Linked DNA regions of Homo sapiens: regions 1, 2, 3, 5 and 6 are each reported to be linked to region 4. The links are microRNA targets in miRTarBase. Many come from high-throughput screens and were not tested one by one. Region 4 holds a microRNA gene; each other region holds the end of a gene's coding sequence.

Region 1 (4,092 bases), not on the chromosome of region 4:
CTAAAAAATAAGTATGATAGAGCAGCTTACTGGGACTTTTAACACGAGACTTTGAGAGCAGAGCAAATGAATAATGTGAAGAGCTAGAACGTTGCCTTTTGGGTCAGAATGTTAATATATCATCCTGATAGAATGTCTATGAATTTCATAGGTTATACAGGGCAGGGCTGGGCTGTGGCCACTCATTTTGGAGCTTTTACTTAATACTACGGAACATCTCGTCCCAACAGTTGTCTTTTCTCCATCTAGAAGAAAAGCAGCTTAATCATTTTGGTGGGGAAGAGTGATGCTGTGACTTTCAGTTGTGAATTGAACATTTTTCTAGTATTTTACAGTTACTTTTAATACCGCTTTTAGGGAAATTGATATGTTCTGTAATGAGAATGTAGTCAACATGATGGAGACTCAAACCTCCTGCTTTACCTTACTCTTTGTTTATTTTCCTAGGTTACCAAAGTGACCCAGGTAGATGGAAACAGCCCCGTCAGGTTTTCCACAGAGACCACTTTCCTAGTGGATAAGTATGAAATTCTGTAATACCAAGAAGAGGGAGCTGAAAAGGAAAATTTTCAGATTAATAAAGAAGACGCCAATGATGGCTGAAGAGTTTTTCCCAGATTTACAAGCCACTGGAGACCCCTTTTTTCTGATACAATGCACGATTCTCTGCGCGCAAGGACCCTCGACTCACCCCCATGTTTCAGTGTCACAGAGACATTCTTTGATAAGGAAATGGCACAAACATAAAGGGAAAGGCTGCTAATTTTCTTTGGCAGATTGTATTGGCCAGCAGGAAAGCAAGCTCTCCAGAGAATGCCCCCAGTTAAATACCTCCTCTACCTTTACCTAAGTTGCTCCTTTATTTTTATTTTATTATTATTATTATTATTATTATTATTTTTTGAGATGGAGTCTCACTTTGTAACCCAGGCTGGAATGCAATGGCATGATCTCAGCTCACTGCAACCTCCGCCTCCTGGGTTCAAGCAAGTCTCCTGCCTCAGCCTCCGAGTAGCTGGGACTACAGGTGCACGCCACCACGCCTGGCTAATTTTTTGTATTTTAGTAGAGACGGGGTTTCACCGTGTTGCCCAGGCTGGTCGCGAACTCCTGAGCTCAGGCAATCCGCCCACCTCAGCCTCCCAAAGTGTTGGGATTACAGGCATGAGCCACCATGCCCAGCTGCTCCTTTATTTTAATCCCTAAATATAATCCCTAAATATAGTTATATTTCATACTTAGTTTGTTTTTAAAAAGTTTTCTCTGTAGAAAATTTTAATCATTCATACCCTTTACCTTTAGGTTTTTCTTTCTATACATTCAGTCAGGCACTGGGATCATCTGTTTACAGGCATTATATTTATTTGGCACTCCTGGAACAAGTATATCTAACCCATTCTTGATTTTTGGACTATTCAGGTGAACTATTTGAGGGGTATGGGGTCTAGAAGTTAAAAGATACGCATGTCTTCTGTTCTTTTCCCGTATCAATTCATTCCTTCATCTCTTTGCCAAGTTGTTTTCCTTTCAGGGCCTGTCCTTCCAGTTTAGAACAGTACCATGAATCCCACTTGTGTCAATATTAAAGATAGCTGAGAAGCACCTTTCAAATGGCACAGTCCCTCTTCAAGATGTCTAAAAGAATGGTTATGTCTGTCCAGTTAGGGATTTCACATCCACATGTAATCATGTCTGCTGCTGTTGCTACCCAAATTTTCATTTCTCCACATTTTGGGTACTTAAGCTAAAACGTAATGGCCACAGTCTGTAATCCATTCACATTCCTCAGTTTCACCACCTCCCTCTTCCAGACTGCACTCTCTGTCATCAGTCCCCTCCTTTCTAACAGAAATGGGGTTATGATTTTGAAGGCTGTGGGTTCAGGGAGTCTTTGCCAATCCTGTTGGCCCTAAACTATCAAGGAGGCTCCATTTCACCATTTGATTTTTTGCATTTCAGGAGGCAACTGATTGTTTCGATATGTACATATTACTCACGTATACCCCATTTCCTTCCAGTCAGCCCAACATTTTCCACCAGTCTGTCCCCATCTCTGAAATCCTTCCTTCTCTTTCCCCCTAAGTCTTTTGAGTGTCATCATGTACTGGTGGTTTCTCGGTTCCATCTCATCCATTTCCTTTTCAATGGAGACTACAGCGTCAGCCAGCTCAGCCTTGGCTTTTAACTCAATATTCCAGTCCATAGGGGTGGTTAAAAGTTGCTGCAAGGCTGCAGGCACTGGCAGTGGGAAGAGGCAGACGACTAGATGACTTCTGCACTTTTAGCTGGTTGAAAAGTACCACTCCCACTCTGAACATCTGGCCGTCCCTGCAAAGAGTGTACTGTGCTTGAAGCAGAGCACTCACACATAAATGGCTGTGTGTGGAATTGCTTGCCAAAGAAGTTTCTAGCCTTTCCCTTTCCCCTAACTGCATCAGGGAAGAATTCTTATCTCTAGCTTGGTTTCCACATGAGGTTTTTCTGAGAAGGGCTTGGGACAAGAAGTCTGTCATGTTAGTTAAGCAGGCAAGAAATCCTACTAATCCAGTTTTGTTTGAAAGTTGTTTGTCCGTATGATTTTTTAAAAGTCAAGTTTAATTTCAAAAAACCTTTTTTTTCTGAGATTACTTTTGGGGTAATATTTAAAATGAGAGACATTTTGTAACCCTGTAAAATACATAGGGAATATAACATTCCAGTGTATACAAAGAAGGCAAATTCTTTAATCAAATAAAGCGCATTATAAAATGAGATGTTTATTGGATTATTGACTCACTTTGGTGTCTGCTTGTTGATTCAGGATGCTGTAATGGGACCTAACATTAAAAATTAATGACATGTTTTTTTTAAGAGAAAGTAATCTGTGAGAGTATTCATTGCCTTTTTCCATCTTATATGTATTGTGCTTCCTTGCGTATTTTTCTACATTTGATACATGCACTCCTGACAGTGTAGCTTTTGAATTTGATGCTACTTCTGGCCTTTTTGGGGATTGGAGTCTTAATTTTGTCAGACGGCAGTTGGAGAGTCAAAAAAGTCAGGCTTCATCTTTAATCTTGGAGTCTTGGAGTCTTCTCTTCCCCATTAGACCGTGATGAGAAGTGATCCAGGGATGAGGGATAATGGGAACAATTTTTGGGAACTGTTGATAATTCCCTCAGATAAACCTGCTTACTTTTTTTTTTTGAGATGGAGTCTCGCTTAGCTGCCCAGGTTGGAGTGTGGTGGTGCGATCTCAGCTCGCTGCAACCACGGTCGCCCAGCTTCAAGCGATTCTCCTGCCTCAGCCTCCAGAGTAGCTGGGATTACAGTCACCCGCCATCATGCCGGGCTAATTTTTTTTGTATTTTCGTAGAGACGGTTTCACCATGTTGGTCAGGCTGGTCTTGAACTCCTGGTCTCAGATGATTCGCCCACCTCTGCCTCCCAAAGTGCTGGATTACAGGCGTGAGCCACCGCGCCCAGCCTTTTTTTTTTTTTTTTTTGAGACAGTCACCAGGCTGCAGTGCAGTGACATGATTTCGGCTCACCACAACCTCCACCTCCAGGGTTCAAGTGATTCTCCTGCCTCAGCCTCCTGAGTAGCTGGGATTACAGGCATTCCACACCACCACCCCCGGCTAATTTTTGTATTTTTAGTAGAGACGGTTTCACCATGTTGGTCAGACTGGTCTCAAACTCCTGACCTCGTGATCCGCCCGCCTCAGCCTCCCAAAGTGCTGGGATTATAGGCCTGAGCCACCGCGCTCCGCCAGAGCTGCTTACTTTCTTATGCTTTTTTAAAATTTAACTTGGAAAAACTATTGGGTGTCAAAAAATTGGAAGGCAAATTATTCTCACTTATTAAGTATCTGGGATGAGAAATTTCTAATGTTGAAAGCCAAGATTCTGATTTTTTTTTTCTTGGTGAAAAAAAGTATCTGGTCTAATGTTGCTCAAGTGTGGCTTAGCTGTCTGAGACTGTAGCCTTAATCGAATGAAATGATTAAGGTCTGTCATTCCTTTACTCACCATAGCTTCAAATTTGTCAACCCATGCATCTCTGATGGGAAACTTTGCCCTCCAATTAATTTTTAAATTGTGAACAGTTTT
Region 2 (4,092 bases), not on the chromosome of region 4:
GGAATGTCTGTCTTGTACAGTTCAGATAAGGACTGAGATAAGCCATGGTCTCCTGCAGAACCCTCAGGCTTACTAGGGTTGGGAAAACTCAACCCTGGTAAATTTGTGGTCAGACTGGTTCTCTGCTCTCCAACCGTTTTCAGTTGTTTATCAAGACAATACATGTACTACTGAACATACACCCTTATCAGTGGTTCTGCTTTTGCCCTTTGCCCTGTGATCTTTGTTGGACCCTTATCAGAGGTTCTGCTTTTGCCCTTTGATCTTTGTTGGAGCCTTATTAGTGGTTCTGCGTTTGCCCTTTGCCCTGTTCCCTCAGAAACGTGATCTTTGTTAGACCCTTATCAGTGGTTCTGCTTTTTGCTCTTTGAAGCATGTGATCTTTGTACCTACTCTCTGTTCTTACACCCCCTCCCCTTTTGAAACCCTTAATAAAAACTTGCTGGTCTGAGACTCAGGCGGGCATCATGGTCCTACTGATAGGTGATGTCACCCCTGGCAGCCCAGCTGTAAAATTCCTTTCTCTGTGTTATCTCTATTTCTCAGCCGGCTGACACTTATGGAAAATAGAAAGAACCTACATTGAAATATTGGGGGCGGGTTCCCCCAATACCTGAACTGGCTCAATCAACAAATAAATTTACTTCTGTCAATTATAAAAAGTGAAAGGAATAATAACTTAAATAGGCTTATATAAGGTTCTTCAATTAGAAGAACAAAATAGAATGTTTTAATTCAATAAAACAATACACTAATTGTGGAACTACATCTAAAAATTATTTTGTGTGCCCTACTAAATTTTATAAAAATAGTTTATATCTTTGACCACTTCACATAATGAAAACCTCATAAACTATAAAAGAAAAAAAATTGTAAGAAACAACAAAAAAATGTGGGCTAGGCATGAGTACCAATCAAGTAAAAACAAAATTTGCATAAGATTTTGAACCCATAAGCCATACTATTTTACAGTAATTCAGTAGAAAGAGTATAGATTTGCTTTCCGCATTTTTGAGGTTTATAGTTTTCTAGTAAATTAGTTACCTTACTAAAATGTTTTGTTCCAATATTGCTCTTTTCTTCTGAAAATAGGAACAAATTTATACTCACACAAACATGCTTACTTACTCCATAATTTTCTTACACCTAGGGTTTAACTTAAGAGTAATGTATGTATATATTTAACTTTACTAAGTCAAAACTAACAAGTCTGTATGTGTTTGCAGGCAGAGAAACAACATGTTCAAAAATACATATAACAATTTTTTTAATGCTTATTTAGGACTCAGAATGTGTGGACTTTATTTATACTTCTATATAATTTTTAGCATAACCATAAAAATAGCCCTGTAGTCAATAACAATTGTACATTAAAAAAAACTAAAACTGTAGAATTGGTTTATAATACAAAGGATAAATGCTGGAGATGATGGATACTTAATTTTTCCTGATGTAATTATTACATATTATATGTCTGTATCAAAATGTGCTATATATGGCATAAATATACACATACAATGTATCCACAAAAATTAAAAAGTATAAACTTAGATGAGAAATAAATATTTAACCTATGAGAACATTCTTTAACCTCCTTGCAGTTTAAAGTCACTGGCAAAAGGGATTACTAGAAATGTTTGTCCATTATGTTACCAAATAGTATGTTACCATCTTTTGCCTACACCAGTGAGTAAAGTGAAATAGGTTAAAGTTAATGGCATACTAACTTTATTAAATGTTTTATAAATGTTAAATAAAATTTTAATAAAATATTAAGTTCACACATAACTTAAAATTTTAAGAACGTACATTTTATTACATAAAAGTACAATTAGTAAAATAATTTACTAATTTTAACTAAAATTTAAAATGCTTTTTTCTCACTATAATGCAGAATATTACCCTGAACACCCACCTCATGTGTCACTTATATTAACAAAAAGAGCCTCTCCACTTAGATTTTTATGTGTCTTACATTTTAATGTCCTTACCCTTCCATAAAAAAGATCATAATGCCCAACTAATAAAAAAAAATTCTCCTATCTCTGATGCAACAATTAGTCACAAGTTGAATACAATAGAAATGAAGAAAACAAGAAGAGTTTTGAATTTTGAGAGTTGAATTACATTATTCATGTTGCAAATAATCTGTATTTTTTAAGGAAAAAAGTATACTTTCAATGTAATTATAACTTTTCAAAAAATTTTCTACACCTTTTAAAGTTATACACAATTTATCTAACAACTTTAGTTCTGGATTATTTTTTATACTCAGCATTCTGATTTACTGTAATGTCTGAAGTGTCAGTGCCTTAGATATTTCTGAGCTATCTGATATTTACATAGACTTAATTTTAGAATAAATATTGTTTTATATTTACTGCATCTACAAAAAAAAAAAAAAAAATATATATATATATATATATATATATATATATATAGAGAGAGAGAGAGAGAGAGAGAGAGAGAGAGAGAGAGAGAGAGAGAGAGAGAGAGAGATGGAGTTTCACACTTGTTGCCCAGGCTAGAGTGCAATGGCACGATCTTGACTCACTGCAACCTCTGCCCCTCCAGTTCAAGCGATTCTCCTGCCTCAGCCTCCTGAGTAGCTGGAATTAAAGGCACTCACCACCATGCCTTGCTAATTTTTGTATTTTTAGTAGAGACAGGGTTTCGCTATGTTGACCAGGCTGGTCTCGAACACCTGACCTCAGGTGATCCATCCACCTCGGCCTCCCAATATGCTGGGATTACAGGTGTGAGCCACTGCGCCCAGCCTGCAGAAATATATTTTAGTACTAACTCTCTGGTGTTTTCTAAAGCTATAGATTTTGAAAAAATGTGTTTTTCTAAATGTATTACATTTGCAGAGTTTTTCTCCCATACAGATTCACTGATGTTGAAAAAACTTTGAGCAACTGCTTCAGGGTTTTTCTCTAGTACAAAATGTACATGATAAGCTTTATGATACCAGTAAATGTACTACAACCCTCTTTATGTTTGTAATCTTTGTCTTCAAAACGAATACTCTTCTTCACTTTAAAGGCTTATATTTTCTTAAAGTCTTTAGACAGTAATTGCATTTATAATGCTTTTATTAAGTACCAACATTCTGATATTAAGATGTCAACAGATATTAATGGCTATTTTACACTCTTTATATTTGTACAATTTTTCTTAAGTATAAACGCTTTCCTGTGCAATAAGGTTTGAGCCTTAATTAACAGTATTGCCAAATTCTTCACACTTGTAGTTTTCTCCAGTATGAATTATCTTACATACAATGAAGTGTGAAAACCATTTAAAGTCTTTGACACATTCTTTACATTTCTAGAATTTTTCACCAGTATGATTTCCTTTATATTTAGAAAAATTTGAGGTGTTGTCAAAATCATTATCACACATTCCAGTTCTGTAGTTTCTCTCCAGTATGTATTTTTTTATGTTTAGTAAGGTTTGCAGATTGGTTAAAAGCTTTGTCACATCTCTCACATTTATAGGGTTTCTCTCCAGTATGAATTATCTTATGTTCAGTAAGTTTTGAGGATCGGCTAAAAGCTTTGCCACATTCTTCACATTTGTAGGGTTTCTCCCCAGTATGAATTCTTTTATGTGTAGTAAGGGATGAGGAGTGTTTAAAAGCTTTGCCACATTCTTCACACTTGTAGGGTATCTCTCCAGAATGAATTTTCTTATGTTCAGTAAGTTTTGAGGATTGGATAAAAGCTTTGCCACATTCTTCACATTTGTAGGGTTTCTTTCCAGTATGAAGTTTCTTATGTTCAGTAAGTTTTGAGGATCGGTTAAAAGCTTTGCCACATTCTTCACATTTGTAGGGTTTCTCTCCAGTGTGAATTCTCTTATGTGTAGTAAGGGCTGAGGAGTGTTTAAAAGCTTTGCCACATTCTTTACATTTGTAGGGTTTCTCTTCGGTATGAATTTTCCTATGTTCCGTAAGATTTGAGGATCGGTTAAAAGCTTTGCCGCATTCCTCACATTTGTAGGGTTGCTCTCCAGTATGAATGTTTTTATGTTCAGTAAGTTTTGAGGATCGGTTAAAAGCTTTTCCACATTCTTCACATTTGTAGGGTT
Region 3 (4,092 bases), not on the chromosome of region 4:
CTATGAAAATTATCCTACTTATGATTTAACTGAAAGAAAAGATTTCATAAAAACAACTGTAAAAGAGGTAAATATTTCAGTCTTTCAAGTTTGACTTTAGAAATATAAGACAAAAGTAATTACATAAAATACTCCATATTTTTCAAAATATTCATGTCACTAAATATCACATTTGATCCTCACATTTCTTCATAATAGGGAAATTTATTTCTTCTCATTCCCACTTTAAAGCTTAAAATTAAAGTTTGAACAGTTAGTGATAAGACCTGAACTCAGATTATGATGTGGCCTCATGGTGTACCTGGGTAGCTGGGCATCTCAACGTTGCTCTCACAAATACTTGAGGAAGTTCCTGTCTACGAGGCAAAGGTGAGGGGAAGATCAGCAGGTAGCTGTAATTCTGTATTGATCTCAACTGATTTTTGAAGGACAAAATAGTAAAATAGATGTGGAAAAAATGGGATAAAGGTTTATGATTTATGGCAAAATAATGTTTCTCTTTCATTACAGCTAATTTCTTGAGATAGAGGACAGAGAAGATGACTCGTTCCCATAGATTTGAAGATCTGATTTATACCATTATACCAGCAAAGAGAATGTATTTCCTTTTCTAAATCCTTGTTAAGCAACGTTAGTAGAACTTACTGCTGACCTTTTTATCTTGAGTGTTATGTGAATTTGAGTTTGCTGTTTTAAATTGCATTTCTATGCCATTTTTAGTTTAAAATCTTGCATGGCATTAATTGTTCCTTGCTTTTATAGTTGTATTTTGTACATTTTGGATTTCTTTATATAAGGTCATAGATTCTTGAGCTGTTGTGGTTTTTAGTGCACTTAATATTAGCTTGCTTAAGGCATACTTTTAATCAAGTAGAACAAAAACTATTATCACCAGGATTTATACATACAGAGATTGTAGTATTTAGTATATGAAATATTTTGAATACACATCTCTGTCAGTGTGAAAATTCAGCGGCAGTGTGTCCATCATATTAAAAATATACAAGCTACAGTTGTCCAGATCACTGAATTGGAACTTTTCTCCTGCATGTGTATATATGTCAAATTGTCAGCATGACAAAAGTGACAGATGTTATTTTTGTATTTTTAAAAAACAATTGGTTGTATATAAAGTTTTTTTATTTCTTTTGTGCAGATCACTTTTTAAACTCACATAGGTAGGTATCTTTATAGTTGTAGACTATGGAATGTCAGTGTTCAGCCAAACAGTATGATGGAACAGTGAAAGTCAATTCAGTGATGGCAACACTGAAGGAACAGTTACCCTGCTTTGCCTCGAAAGTGTCATCAATTTGTAATTTTAGTATTAACTCTGTAAAAGTGTCTGTAGGTACGTTTTATATTATATAAGGACAGACCAAAAATCAACCTATCAAAGCTTCAAAAACTTTGGGAAAGGGTGGGATTAAGTACAAGCACATTTGGCTTACAGTAAATGAACTGATTTTTATTAACTGCTTTTGCCCATATAAAATGCTGATATTTACTGGAAACCTAGCCAGCTTCACGATTATGACTAAAGTACCAGATTATAATGCCAGAATATAATGTGCAGGCAATCGTGGATGTCTCTGACAAAGTGTGTCTCAAAAATAATATACTTTTACATTAAAGAAATTTAATGTTTCTCTGGAGTTGGGGCTCTTGGCTTTCAGAGTTTGGTTAATCAGTGTTGATTCTAGATGATCAACATAATGGACCACTCCTGAATGAGACTTAATTTTGTCTTTCAAATTTACTGTCTTAAATCAGTTTATTAAATCTGAATTTTAAAACATGCTGTTTATGACACAATGACACATTTGTTGCACCAATTAAGTGTTGAAAAATATCTTTGCATCATAGAACAGAAATATATAAAAATATATGTTGAATGTTAACAGGTATTTTCACAGGTTTGTTTCTTGATAGTTACTCAGACACTAGGGAAAGGTAAATACAAGTGAACAAAATAAGCAACTAAATGAGACCTAATAATTGGCCTTCGATTTTAAATATTTGTTCTTATAAACCTTGTCAATAAAAATAAATCTAAATCACTGGTGTTTTAAGTCACTTGCATTTGATATCTTATAGGTGTATATAGCATTTCCTTATGGGGAATAATTCTGAAAAGGGATTTTTAAATTGATTCAGCCCTATAACCTATACAATTTGGAATACTCTTTTGTGGTAATGGACCATTTTCTTGGAGTGACTTCACAAAACTGAATAATTAAGGTTAATTTTATGACCATTTGCTATAAAGAAGGTAAGTAGTCATGCATAGAGTATTTGGAAGTGAGGAAATGGAGTTGTTCTGTATGAAAGTTCTTGATGAGTACGCACACTTATTAAATGGATGTATCACCACTACAGTACAGAGTACATGTGAAAGTCTAGTTTTTTATTAGTTTTACACAACCAGCTATTCATGAACTGTAGTTAAAACATTGTAAATCTGTATATTTACTGCTACTCAATTACAAAATCTTCAGATGGCATTGAAAAAACATATCCAAAGTAACTCAAGAAAAAAGTACCATGGCTTCTTAAACAAAAAATCAAATGAAGTATGTCACTTGATAGGAAGTTTAAAACACACATTTACCATACTTTAAAGTAGGTTTTCCCCTACTTGTAGCACAGTTCAAGTGCCTGGAAACTAACATAATAATTTACTGTTAACCATTTCAAACTTAACATTTTGCATTTATCACTTTAAAACACATGCTGTCTAAACATTTTAATACATGATACTTTAAAGCAGAATACTTGCCAGTCAGTACCAATGAGTCTCAACAAATAACCTAAATATCAGAGTTGTCTTGGGTTAACTTTTGAGATATACAGCTGTTGGCTTGTTTTGGGACCACACTTTGATTGGGGGGGGCGGGGGGCGGGCGGTGGGGGAGGTGTCTTAAATGCCTGAGGTTCACTGCACATTCTTGGTGTGTTAGGTATTTACTCGTTATAAACTGACCTACTTTTAAATTTTTAAAATACTCAATATTTTGAAGTCTCTTTAAAGTCATATTTAGTCCCTTCTTTAAAGCAAACCAGTATATTATTGTTCAAAAACAAAAGCATATTTCTAACCTGTATACTGAAGTTTCTTGGCAAAATAGGCATCCTGAAGACCCTGCAACCAGTGTTTTATTTTAGAATGAGATATTATTAAACTGTTTTCTGTCATGAGTGTTTTTAAAAAAAAGATAAAAGTAAATACTTGCCATGTTCTTAGGCCTTTAAAATATAGCTTATAAAATGTATACTATTTACCAGGAGAGCTCACATTTTTCTGCAGTTTTCCAGTGGACCTGCCTATGGAATACTGTAAAGAAAAATCTGCAAAAATATTCCTAGCAATTGAATCAGTGCTTTTAAATAAAAGAAGTGGAGAGGGGCTTGGTTAAATTATTCTGACAAGTTTTTTTGCTAGTGGTTGCCAAAATTAAGGATATTTAAAGTGTCCTATCACCCAAATTTGGCTTTAAGAAAAAGCTATATTCTGTGTCTATAGTGTGAAGCCCACACTATCTGTGCTGCATTCTCAATGATACAATACCTATCTGGAAACTTTCCTGTTTTGCCAATGGGTGCACAAATCTAAAACATTTTATCACAAAAGGTACTTGAATTTAAATTTCTTTTGAACACCCAGTAGGAGGAAATATGTACAATACAAAATACCTAGAAGCTTCATTTTACTGTCAACTGGAGTTTGTGCTGTATCCAAAAAAAAGTTCTATCTAAATTTTAAGTAAAAGCTCAATATTGGACCTATATAAAAATTAAGGCTCATTGGTAAAGATACTGATAAATTGTCACAGAAGAAAAACATGGCTTTATCTGGTTTTTAAATGATTCCTGCTTGATTGACTTGGTTTCTCAATGTATGAAAATTGATCAGCCATATAAAATGTGAAATCTAAAGGGAACTTCCAGCCATGGAACAATCAAATCCATGGCCTCAACTGAAACTTACATTCTGCTTTATTCTGAAATCCAGACTTTCAGCAGTAGTTGAACCTATGGAAAATGCAATTAAATCTAAGTGCTTATAAGGTTTTTTGAGGTCAGTGCTTTTAG
Region 4 (4,092 bases):
GAAAAAAAGGGTGTTTTAAGCAGTTAGTTGTGGCATTATTCATAATATTTTTAAAAGGTGGTTATACATAAGAATAACAGAATGGTTCTGTGAATGATGCCATAGCCACTCAACAAGGCACAACGCAGCAAGTGAGGTTATGAAGATTCATGGAACAAGGGAAAATGTTGATGACAGAAAATTAAATAGAAGAGGCAGGATACAAAAAAAAAAAAGTGTATGTGGTGAATAATGGCAATTAGGTTTTTTTAAAGAAGGGATGCTCATTAAAGAATAGACACTCTTTTTTTAAAAAAAGTATGCCTGTAAGAATGTAAAATGGGTGACATGTCAGAATGTTGAGTGGTGCATGCATTTCCCACTGCTCTAGGTCAAGTGCCATCCACACCATTTATATTAGGAACACAACGGGACACAGCAGGATTCGTGGCCTGTCTATCCCAGAGGTCCTGAGGCCAAGCTTCCCAAGGAGGGAGTTGGGAGTCACAAGAGGAGGCCAAGGAGAGTTGTAGCTCCTGGTGTCACCAGGAAAGGATTTGTGTGTGGGGAGCATGCAAATGACAATGTCAAGAGACAGAATTAATTCTCATTGTTAAAAGTTTAACGAACACATAAAGATAGGCCCTGACCAGACAGGAGCACTAGGATCCCAACTCGGACCTTGTGGGTCTGGTACAGAAAGAACCGGGTAGGGAGCACGTGAAGGATGTTTTATCTCTGGCTTTTGTGCCATTAGGAACCCTATCCCGAATCTCAGCATCCCAGAACTAAAGAACCTTTGAATTACAGATACAAAACTCTTAAGGGTCAAAACCCTAAGAGCCCTGATCCCCCCTCATGGCCTCCACATTTCCAAAAGGACACACAGAATTCATCCAACCCAAACCCACCCAGCCTCCAGGGCACCAGTGGGTCTCCCCAGAGCTGCTCTCATTGGCTCAGTTCGACCCACTGTGACCCGTCAGGACAGCCCCTAGATGTTGGGAGCAGGCTCTCCTAGCAGCCAACGTCGCTTGTTCCTTCCAATTTCCTCTTGGTGCATGCAATGGGCCCTCCCTTCCCCGCCTTCTGCACACTTTAAGTCTTCCTGAGCCTCTGCTGACTTTTTTTAACAGCCGTACATGAGTTCTTTTGAAAGACCCTCCCGGTCTTCTTCTGCCCTGAACCCCTCCCGCCCCATCCTCATCCAACAGTGACACAGCTTGTCAGGGAGAAGCTTCAGCAGGTGTCCCCAGGGATAATAAGTGCACCCCCAGACCTCAGTCCAGCCAAGGCATAGCCTGGAGCCCCAGATTCTGAAAGAGAAGAAGAGCAGACCCCTGAGGCCCCAGCACCACATCAGGCCCACGAGGCCCAGCTCATGTGGCCCTGACACGTGGTACTGGAGGCTCGGAAGGTGGCTCCTGACACATGAATTCCATGTCCTCCGCCTTCCAAATGCTGTTGCCATCCACTCGGCCGGAGCTAGAAGCGTGGGAACCACCCCCTTCTTCTTGCCTCCCTCCCTCCTTCATATCCTGTCTATAACCCCATAGCTTTGATTCCTGAGCACCCCACTTTGCTGCCATCAGCTCAGACCTCAAGCATCACACTAGCTAACAGCCCCATCCATGCCTGCGCCCGCACTCCCCATCCCACCCAGCGTCTACAGAGTCACTCTGAGCATGACGCCTCCCACTCCAGATGGCCTGGCCCCACCCCACTCCCCTGCCTCCCACGTGCTCCCTGCCACAAGTCCTGAGTCCATCCAAGCTGTGCTCCTACTGCTCCGGGCGCTTGTTAAGAATCCAGTGTTTTTATATGTCCCAAATAGGAATTGAGAGGTCAACAAGGGAGACTTTGGTCCTTGCTTTTACAGACAAACACAGGCACACAACACAAAACTACACACATTTCCTCCACTACAGAGAAAGGAGACTCAACAGAACCGGGGAGGCCCTGGGGGAGGACTGTCAGCACGAGCAACTCTCCAGATTTACCCCGGCAGTCCCCCGGAGGGCGAGTCAGAGAAGAGACAACCTCGACACAGCGAAACGCAATCCCGCCAAGTTACAAAACACGTCGTGAAACAGCCGAGAAGACAGAGAGGCCTTGAACCAGGCTCTGGGGATGGCATGTCAAGGAAGCCAGGGTCCCCGGACCACTTCTGCAACCCCAGGGGTGCTGAGGTGCACCTGCTGCCCAGGGAAACCTGAGTTGAGAAGGGTGGGCGCCCTGCCCCATGGAAGACCAGGCCAGAGGGTGGCCTGGGCACACTGCAGAGAGTTGCAAGAACAAGGTTTCTGGTGGCTTGCCCAGGGCTCCTGGGTCCCGGGGCTTCTGGGTCCCCCTTCTCAGGTGCGCCTGGCCACCTTCTGGCCTTTCCCTGCACCAACCCCTGGATGTGAGTAGGTGCCACACCCAGGGTGGCACACAGCAGGCGGGGCCCATGCTCCACCCAGGGCCTATTGCTCCCTGACCCTCTGCTGCCCCCTGGTGGGCAAAACCTCCTGTGCAGGTGACCCATGCCGCGGGAGTGGCCAAGCTACCCAACAGGCTTCACACCACTCGTTCATGCAACCTTCTGCGGGGCTCAGGGTCCAAGCCCTTCCTGCCTATCCAGGCCATAGATGGGGTACCATCAACAGAGACACATAAGATCAACTCTAGTAGGCAGCTGGTGCCACTCCAGGTTTACAGATGGGGAAACTGAGGAAGAGACAGATGCAGTGAAATGGCCCACACAGCCAAGATAGGGCAACAGCACCCCAAGACCAGGGTCTTCCTGAGCCAGCTCCTCCCTGCCAGGGCAAGTGCATGTGACAAGCACATGACATGCCTACAGCCACCCTCCCTGGGGACCACTTCATTCCACTGTCTAGAACACAGGACTGGAAAGAAGGTTCCTTCCTCTCTTCCCTTTTTCCCTCCTTCCTTTCTTCCTACCTTCCTACCACCCTTTCTTCCAGTCATTCGTTCATCCATTTAGATCTGAGTCCTTTGTTTATGGACTTCAGTAACATAGCTTGAAATTAATCATAGCCTTTGGCCTAAAGGCCTCCATTCACAAGTCCTATTTATTGACCGTTACATTATTTTATTCTTTATTCATTTCTTTTTCATTTCTTCCCAAATTGCATCTTTCTTTCTTCCTCTCACTCTTCCTTATGTTTCTCTGGTTCTTTCTCCTTCTTTTTTTTTTTTTCTTTTTTGATCTAAGATAGTGTCTTGCTCTGTAGCCCAGGCTGGAGTGCAGTGGTGCAATCTTGGCTCACTACAACCTCCACCTCCCGGGTTCAAGCAATTCTCCTCTCTCAGCCTCCCGAGTAGCTAGGATTACAGACAGGTGCCACCACGCCCATAATTTTTGTATTTTTTTAGTAGAGATGGAATTTCACCATGTTGGCCAGGCTGATCTCAAACTGGCTGGTCTCAAACTCCTGACCTCATGATCCGCCCACCTCGGCCTCCCAAAGTGCTGGGATTACAGGCGTGAGCCACCATTCCCAGCCATTCTTGGTTCTTATAAAGTCAGGTGGACAGAATCCCATGAATCAGGGCTCCCGGTCACCACCTTCATGCTGGTCCCTAAAGCACTACTGCTCCTACGTCAAGCACCATTCACTCTCTCATCCACTCACTCATTTGTCAGTCTTCCTTATTTTGGGTATTTGTTTTCCTTATTAATTTTTTTAATTAAAACTCCATGGGCAAACCAAACATCTTTGGCCCATGTATTTATTTGCAATCTTTCTTCCCCGCATTTAGTCACCTTTCACGTTTAAGTATTTATTCTTTTATTTATGAACCTCAATTGCATCTATTTTATTACAGTGGCAGAAGATACAGCCTTGTTTTGGAGCCAGGTATGTCTCTCTATTTTTCATTTATTCTTTGAAAGGTGTAATGTATTTATCTGTTTAAGGAGTATGTATGTAAACTAATTATAATCCCTGTTCAGACAACCTCCCTTAACTATCCATTTATCACTTTGGTTGTTTGTTTATTACCTTTCCTTTTTCCTTTTTCACATCTTTTTATATTTTCTCCATTTTCCCTCCCCCTGGGAACCTGGGCCTGGATTATCTCATCCATCTTCAGGATTACTGACAG
Region 5 (4,092 bases), not on the chromosome of region 4:
TGAATAGATTACTTTATAATTTCATCTATTACCCTGAAGACAGAATTCAATGTCATTCTTACCTTTATATTGTCTTCTCACTCAGGTTCCTCCCATTAAACCTTAACACATAGTTCAGTAAATAGAAGGTGAACGAATTAGTGAATGCATACCCCGTTTTTGCCATCCTACTAGCTTCATAAGAAGCCTAATATCACATGCATAGATTTGTTGAGTTCTGGGATAAATTTTTTCTTATTTGTTTTACCTTCTTATTTTTCAGTCACTGGAGGAGGATCCATGGCCAAGGGTGAATTCTAAGGACCATATACCTGCCCTGGTTCGTAGCAATGCCTTCTCAGAGAATTTTTTAGAGGTTTCAGCTGAGATAGCTCGAGAGAATGTCCAAGGTGTAGTCATACCCTCAAAAGATCCAGAACCACTTGAAGAAAATTGCGCTAAAGCCCTGACTTTAAGGATACATGATTCTTTGAATAATAGCCTTCCAATTGGCCTTGTGCCTACTAATTCAACAAACACTGTCATGGACCAAAAAAATTTGAAGATGTCAACTCCTGGCCAAATGAAAGCCCAAGAAATTGAAAGAACCCCTCCAACAAACTTTAAAAGGACATTAGAAGAGTCCAATTCTGGCCCCCTGATGAAGAAGCATAGACGAAATGGCTTAAGTCGAAGTAGTGGTGCTCAGCCTGCAAGTCTCCCCACAACCTCACAGCGAAAGAACTCTGTTAAACTCACCATGCGACGCAGACTTAGGGGCCAGAAGAAAATTGGAAATCCTTTACTTCATCAACACAGGAAAACTGTTTGTGTTTGCTGAAATGCATCTGGGAAATGAGGTTTTTCCAAACTTAGGATATAAGAGGGCTTTTTAAATTTGGTGCCGATGTTGAACTTTTTTTAAGGGGAGAAAATTAAAAGAAATATACAGTTTGACTTTTTGGAATTCAGCAGTTTTATCCTGGCCTTGTACTTGCTTGTATTGTAAATGTGGATTTTGTAGATGTTAGGGTATAAGTTGCTGTAAAATTTGTGTAAATTTGTATCCACACAAATTCAGTCTCTGAATACACAGTATTCAGAGTCTCTGATACACAGTAATTGTGACAATAGGGCTAAATGTTTAAAGAAATCAAAAGAATCTATTAGATTTTAGAAAAACATTTAAACTTTTTAAAATACTTATTAAAAAATTTGTATAAGCCACTTGTCTTGAAAACTGTGCAACTTTTTAAAGTAAATTATTAAGCAGACTGGAAAAGTGATGTATTTTCATAGTGACCTGTGTTTCACTTAATGTTTCTTAGAGCCAAGTGTCTTTTAAACATTATTTTTTATTTCTGATTTCATAATTCAGAACTAAATTTTTCATAGAAGTGTTGAGCCATGCTACAGTTAGTCTTGTCCCAATTAAAATACTATGCAGTATCTCTTACATCAGTAGCATTTTTCTAAAACCTTAGTCATCAGATATGCTTACTAAATCTTCAGCATAGAAGGAAGTGTGTTTGCCTAAAACAATCTAAAACAATTCCCTTCTTTTTCATCCCAGACCAATGGCATTATTAGGTCTTAAAGTAGTTACTCCCTTCTCGTGTTTGCTTAAAATATGTGAAGTTTTCCTTGCTATTTCAATAACAGATGGTGCTGCTAATTCCCAACATTTCTTAAATTATTTTATATCATACAGTTTTCATTGATTATATGGGTATATATTCATCTAATAAATCAGTGAACTGTTCCTCATGTTGCTGAATTTGTAGTTGTTGGTTTATTTTAATGGTATGTACAAGTTGAGTATCCCTTATCCAAAATGCTTGGGACCAGAAGTGTTTCAGATTTTTTAAAATTTTGGAATATTTGCTTTATACTGAGCTTTTGAGTGTTCCCAATCTGAAATTCAAAATGCTCTAATGAGCATTTCCTTTGAGCATCATGCCTGCTCTGAAAAAGTTTCTGATTCTGGAGCATTTTGGATTTTGGATTTTCAGATTAGGGATGCTTAACCTGGATTAACATTCTGTTGTGCCATGATCATGCTTTACAGTGAGTGTATTTTATTTATTTATTATTTTGTTTGTTTGTTTGAGATGGAGTCTCACTCTGTCATCCAGGCTAGAGTGCAGTGGCGTGATCTCGGCTGACTGCAACCTCTGCCTCCCGGGTTCAAGTGATTCTCCTGCCTCAATCTCTCTCCCCAGAAGCTGGGATTACAGGTGTGTGCCACCACACCCGGCTAATTTTTTTTTTTTTTTTTGAGATGGAGTCTAGCTCTGTCATCCAGGCTGGAGTGCAGTGGTGTGATCTCGGCTCCCTGCAACCTCTGCCTTCTGGGTTCCTGCGATTCTCCTGCCTCAGCCTCCTGAGTAGCTGAGATTACAGGCACGCGCCACTGTGCCCAGCCAATTTTTGTATTTTTAGTAGAGATGGGGTTTCACATGTCAGTCATGCTGGTCTTGATCTCCTGACCTCGTGATCCACCCGCCTCGACCTCCCAAAGTACTGGGATTACAGGCGTGAGCCACCGCATCCGGCCTGAGTTTTATGCTTTCAATGTATTTCTTACATTTCAGTTCAAGTGATTTTCATGTCTCAGCCTCCTGAGTAGCTGGAACTACAGGTGCGTGCCACCATGCCTGGCTAAGTTTTGTATTTTTAGTAGAGATGGGTTTTCATCATGTTGGCCAAGATGGTCTTGATCTCTTGACCTCATGATCCACCAGCCTAGGCCTCCCAAAGTGCTGGGATTACAGGTGTGAGCCACCGTGCCCAGCCAACTATGCCATTATTTAACCATGTCCACACATTCTGGTTATTTTCAATATTTTGCAGAAGATAATTCTTGATCGGTGTGTCTTATGCCACAAGGATTAAAATATGTATTCATTGCTACAAAACAATATCTCGAAATTTAGCAGTTTAAAACAACAAATATTATCTCCAGTTTCTGAGCCTCAGAAATCTGAGAGTGGTTTAGCTGGGTGATAGTCTCGTGGTTTTGGTCAAGCTACCAACCAGGGCTACAATCTTTCGAAGGTGTCATTGGGGCTAGAAGATCTGCTTCCCGCAAGACTCACAGCTGTTGGCAGGAGACCTCAGTTTGTTGCCACATGTTCCCCTCCAGAGGGCCTCTCACAACATGGCAGTTATTTGTCCCCAGAGCAAGCAACACCGGAGGGCAAGGAAGAAGCCATGATGTTTTTTGTAACCTAGCCTCTGAAAGTGTCATACCAATTCTGTATTTTGTTGGTCACACAGACCAAGTCAACTACAACGTGGGAGACTCCTACACAAGGCATGAATTCTAGGAGGTGGGCATTTTTAAGTGTCATCTGGAAGGAGGCTGTCACAACCTGGAAGTTAAAAGCATTGATATTCTGAAATACAGCGTGTATAACATTGTTTTAGTAGGGTGTGCAATAGTTATGTTTTGGTAATAGCATTAATGAACAATGTTATTTTCATCTTCCAGACATCTGGAAGATTGCTCTAGTGGAGTAAAACATCTTAATGTATTTTGTCCCTAAATAAACTATCTCACTAACAAAGTTGAGAATAATTTTTTTTTTTTTTAACAGGGTCTCACTGTCCCCAGGCTGATGTGGAGTGCAGTGGCAAAATCATAGGTCACTGTAACCTTTAACTCCTGGGTTCAAGTGATCCTCCCATCTCAGCTTCCTGAGTAGCTGGGACTACAGGTGCATATCACCACACCTGGTGGATTTTAAAAATTTCCTTAGAGACAAGGTCTCACTGTGTTGCTCAGGCTGGTCTTAAATTCCTGGCCTCAAGTGATCCTCCTGCCTCGGCCTCCCAAAGTGCTAGGCAAATTTTAATCTTAGAGACAAAATATTTAGGCAGTATTAGTGGTTGCATTAGGGATTACAATGTACATACACTTATAGACTACTTAGAATCAATGTTCTATGACTAAAAGTGGAATGTAGGAACGTTACTAGCCAGGTGTGGTGGCATGTGCCTGTAGTCCCAGCTACTCTGGAGTCTGAGGTAGGAGGATCACTTGGGCCCAGGGGGTTGAGGCTTCAGTGAGCCGTGATCACACCACTGCACACCAGCCTGGGCAACAGAGTG
Region 6 (4,092 bases), not on the chromosome of region 4:
CTAACATGGTGAAACCCCATCTCTACTGAAAATACAAAAAATTAGCCGGGTGTGGTGGCACCCACCTGTAGTCCCAGCTACTCGGGAGGCTGAGGCAGGAGAATCGCTTGAACCCAAGAGGTGGAGGTTGCAGTGAGCTGAGATCACGCTATTATTGCACTCCAGCCTAGCAACAGAGTGAGACTCTGTCTCAAAAAAAAAATTTGTATTTTGAAGTGTTAAAGTACACCTGAAGACTGTTAGCTATTTATTCTCTGATAAAGGTGGACACTGGTTAGGGGTGAAACTCATGAAAAATGGCATCATATTTGTGTTTGTGGATGTGTGTGTGTCAACTTTTTTTCTTTTATCTAGGATTAGTCCAAAGAGTGATATTACTGACACTGGCCTGGCACAGAGCAACAATTTGCAGGTCCCCAGTTCTTCAGAACCAAGCAGCCTCAAAGGTTCCACATCTCTGCTTGTTCACCCGGTTTCAGGAGTGAGAAAAGAGCAGGGAGGTGGTTGTCATTCAGATACTTGAAGAACATTTTCTCTCGTTACTCAGAAGCAAATTTGTGTTACACTGGAAGTGACCTATGCACTGTTTTGTAAGAATCACTGTTACATTCTTCTTTTGCACTTAAAGTTGCATTGCCTACTGTTATACTGGAAAAAATAGAGTTCAAGAATAATATGACTCATTTCACACAAAGGTTAATGACAACAATATACCTGAAAACAGAAAATGTGCAGGTTAATAATATTTTTTTAATAGTGTGGGAGGACAGAGTTAGAGGAATCTTCCTTTTCTATTTATGAAGATTCTACTCTTGGTAAGAGTATTTTAAGATGTACTATGCTATTTTACTTTTTTGATATAAAATCAAGATATTTCTTTGCTGAAGTATTTAAATCTTATCCTTGTATCTTTTTATACATATTTGAAAATAAGCTTATATGTATTTGAACTTTTTTGAAATCCTATTCAAGTATTTTTATCATGCTATTGTGATATTTTAGCACTTTGGTAGCTTTTACACTGAATTTCTAAGAAAATTGTAAAATAGTCTTCTTTTATACTGTAAAAAAAGATATACCAAAAAGTCTTATAATAGGAATTTAACTTTAAAAACCCACTTATTGATACCTTACCATCTAAAATGTGTGATTTTTATAGTCTCGTTTTAGGAATTTCACAGATCTAAATTATGTAACTGAAATAAGGTGCTTACTCAAAGAGTGTCCACTATTGATTGTATTATGCTGCTCACTGATCCTTCTGCATATTTAAAATAAAATGTCCTAAAGGGTTAGTAGACAAAATGTTAGTCTTTTGTATATTAGGCCAAGTGCAATTGACTTCCCTTTTTTAATGTTTCATGACCACCCATTGATTGTATTATAACCACTTACAGTTGCTTATATTTTTTGTTTTAACTTTTGTTTTTTAACATTTAGAATATTACATTTTGTATTATACAGTACCTTTCTCAGACATTTTGTAGAATTCATTTCGGCAGCTCACTAGGATTTTGCTGAACATTAAAAAGTGTGATAGCGATATTAGTGCCAATCAAATGGAAAAAAGGTAGTTTTAATAAACAAGACACAACGTTTTTATACAACATACTTTAAAATATTAAGGAGTTTTCTTAATTTTGTTTCCTATTAAGTATTATTCTTTGGGCAAGATTTTCTGATGCTTTTGATTTTCTCTCAATTTAGCATTTGCTTTTGGTTTTTTTCTCTATTTAGCATTCTGTTAAGGCACAAAAACTATGTACTGTATGGGAAATGTTGTAAATATTACCTTTTCCACATTTTAAACAGACAACTTTGAATACAAAAACTTTGTTTTGTGTGATCTTTTCATTAATAAAATTATCTTTGTATAAGAATTATGGAGTATTCTGTGGTTAGGTATAGTAGTTCTGGCCAAGGAAGTAGTATAATTTTTTAGATTAGTGACTCCATGGCTGGTAAGTCAGAGGCTTCTTTTTAACCTTGAAGGAGAATGCAGTCAAGATTCTTGCTTTTTGTCACTATTTCTTTCCAAAAATGTAAATTATAAAGCTATATTAACTGTAACTTTTTAAAGCCAGTGGGAAAGATCTGGAGTGTGAGGGGTGAAGCAAAAGGAACCCAGGACCCAGTTTTCACTCCTAACAGTGTATTAGGTGATACAGACAAACCTCCCAAAACAGAAGGCTAGAATATGTGGATGAAATAAAACAATAGGCAGATTTCTGTGATGGGGGAAAAAAAGAAATAAAATAATATTAACCCCAAACATTAAAAAACTAATAAGATAGTGAGGAATTGCCAGGTTAAGATCTGGGAGAAGAGAGAAATTCTCACTACAAAGCCCAACATTTGGAGCTGTTTTGCCCAGGAGCACTTGATGACTTGGAAAGGGCAGCTGAGAAGTGGAACAGTGCTATTGACAGCCTCAAAGGGCTGGAAGACAAGGGGTCTGCAACCACCCTACATTTAGAATTGTGACCTCAGAGGGTTGGATCTTAAAAGTACATGTGAGTTGTACATAAAGCAGCCCTGCTTCAAGTTGTCTGGGTAGATAGAAAAAGTTCAAACCCTGAAATTAGATTAAGGTAGCTCAAGCACCAGGTAAATGAAAATCTTCTCTGGAGGAAGAAAATGTTATTTTATATACTCTAAAAGTACCACAGTGCTCATCATACAATCAAACAATCAGGTATGCAAAAAAGACCATTTTTTGTTCATTAAAACATGAACAAGAATTGGCACAAGCAAGAGAAAAAGATCCCCAGGTACTGCTGATGTATTACTAGATACACATCATGTAACTTAAAAGTACAAGCAAGGAAAACAATAAGATACTACACACCTATAAGAATGGACAGCACATAGTGACTTCCTTCCAAAGAATCCAAAGTACAGGTGGTACAGGGAGAGTAGCATTTACAGTGGAGAAACCTGACAAACTCAGCGAGAGGTACCTCACTACTCAGAAGGCGATCAAAGTCAAAAGAGAGGTAAGTCATGTTGAGAGTGTTACCTTTCATATGATGTGATGAAAATTGCAGTTTACCTCTGATATTCCCAAAACCTATAACCTCACTCTAGTTGTGAAATATGAGATGAATCTCAGCAGATGGACATTTTACAAGATAGCTGACCAGTCCTCCTCAAAAGGAGTCAAAATCCTCAAGAACAAGGGAAGTTTGAGAAACTATCACAGCCAAGAGGAGCTGAAGGAGACATGACAACTAAATGTAATGTGGTATCTTGGAAAAGAAAAAAGCACATTAGATAAAAACTAAGGAAATTTGAATAAAGCTTAGTCATCCAAATCAGCTAAATGTTCTTTATAATTTTCTTCCTTCTGCTTGCTTTTTCTCACCTTTTAGTCAGATATTGGACTCCTGGATGGATCCTTTAATTTTCTCATCTTTCCTCTCCTTTTGCCAATCTCTTTGGATTTTTTTCTTTGAAACTTTATCAAATGTATTTTTTAATTTTTGATTGAAGTTTTTTTGGCTATCATTTTTTAATTTCACAGCATTTTAAAAATTTTGTTCTTTTTTCATAGTACCTTTTTGTTTTATGATTATTTTATATATAATGTATTTCAAGATACACAATTTACTTTTTAAAGATCATATAGGAAACATTAATTTGTAATATTTATTTTGTAGCAGATGACTTTATTAAAGTCCCTCAATCCCTCTAATAATTTTGCAGTTGATTTTTCCTGGATTTTCTAGGTGGATGATTTTTTCCTCTCAAATAATGGTAATTTTATTCCTCAGCTATTAGCTGGAACTTGTAGCCAGTTAACATTAATAGTAGTAGCAGTAGACATCCTCGTCTTGTTTCTTTATTTTAAAGAAAATGCCTGTAGTACTTCATCATGAAGAACAATGTTGGCATTTGACATAAGATAGGTATTTCTTAATGAGTTAAAAGAATCCTATTCCATCTTATAAGTTTTTAAAAATGAGGAATATGTACTGAATTTTATCAAATGCCCTTTTGCTACCAGGATTAGTCAGTATGAGGCTAACTTCTGTAACAATCCTCAAAATCGCAGTAGCTTTAGAAACTTATTCATGCGACAGGTGTGAATGT

Evidence for each region. The annotated mature microRNA hsa-miR-770-5p reads UCCAGUACCACGUGUCAGGGCCA and lies in region 4 at 1,364-1,386, opposite strand. An mRNA with a match to its seed (bases 2 to 7 or 8) in the 3' UTR can be bound and repressed. Matches are read on the target gene's strand: a 7mer-m8 pairs with bases 2 to 8, a 7mer-A1 pairs with bases 2 to 7 and ends in A, and an 8mer does both.
Region 1: miRTarBase lists ARCN1 as a target of hsa-miR-770-5p. Seed matches in the 3' UTR shown: 7mer-m8 at 2,102-2,108.
Region 2: the mRNA of ZNF675 is a reported target of hsa-miR-770-5p. Seed matches in the 3' UTR shown: 7mer-A1 at 3,259-3,265.
Region 3: miRTarBase lists DEK as a target of hsa-miR-770-5p. Seed matches in the 3' UTR shown: 7mer-A1 at 1,506-1,512.
Region 5: miRTarBase lists PPM1D as a target of hsa-miR-770-5p. Seed matches in the 3' UTR shown: 7mer-m8 at 2,500-2,506.
Region 6: miRTarBase lists FZD6 as a target of hsa-miR-770-5p. Seed matches in the 3' UTR shown: 7mer-A1 at 647-653.

The regions. Positions count from the first base shown.
Region 1 is chr11:118,600,178-118,604,269 of GRCh38, forward strand. ARCN1 (archain 1 coat protein complex I subunit delta) reads left to right here. Exons shown (of 10, transcript NM_001655.5): 10 at 448-2,856. The coding sequence ends at 537. LOC124902765 (a long non-coding RNA gene) reads right to left here. Exons shown (of 2, transcript XR_007062908.1): 2 at 2,722-4,092. Among named protein-coding and RNA genes, the nearest start is that of PHLDB1, 5.4 kb to the right of the region's middle.
Region 2 is chr19:23,649,829-23,653,920 of GRCh38, forward strand. ZNF675 (zinc finger protein 675) reads right to left here. Exons shown (of 4, transcript NM_138330.3): 4 at 2,973-4,092. The coding sequence ends at 3,398. Among named protein-coding and RNA genes, the nearest start is that of ZNF675, 35 kb to the right of the region's middle.
Region 3 is chr6:18,222,149-18,226,240 of GRCh38, reverse strand. It overlaps DEK (DEK proto-oncogene), which reads left to right. Exons shown (of 11, transcript NM_003472.4): 10 at 1-67; 11 at 511-2,381. The coding sequence ends at 522. KDM1B (lysine demethylase 1B) reads right to left here. Exons shown (of 22, transcript NM_001364614.2): 22 at 2,387-4,092. Among named protein-coding and RNA genes, the nearest start is that of DEK, 40 kb to the left of the region's middle.
Region 4 is chr14:100,849,703-100,853,794 of GRCh38, reverse strand. MIR770 (microRNA 770) reads right to left here and starts at 1,405; the gene lies at 1,308-1,405. The region is part of intron 9 of MEG3 (maternally expressed 3); the gene reads right to left.
Region 5 is chr17:60,662,733-60,666,824 of GRCh38, forward strand. PPM1D (protein phosphatase, Mg2+/Mn2+ dependent 1D) reads left to right here. Exons shown (of 6, transcript NM_003620.4): 6 at 263-3,548. The coding sequence ends at 820. Among named protein-coding and RNA genes, the nearest start is that of BCAS3, 13 kb to the right of the region's middle.
Region 6 is chr8:103,330,987-103,335,078 of GRCh38, forward strand. FZD6 (frizzled class receptor 6) reads left to right here. Exons shown (of 7, transcript NM_003506.4): 7 at 355-1,880. The coding sequence ends at 523. Among named protein-coding and RNA genes, the nearest start is that of SNORD173, 24 kb to the left of the region's middle.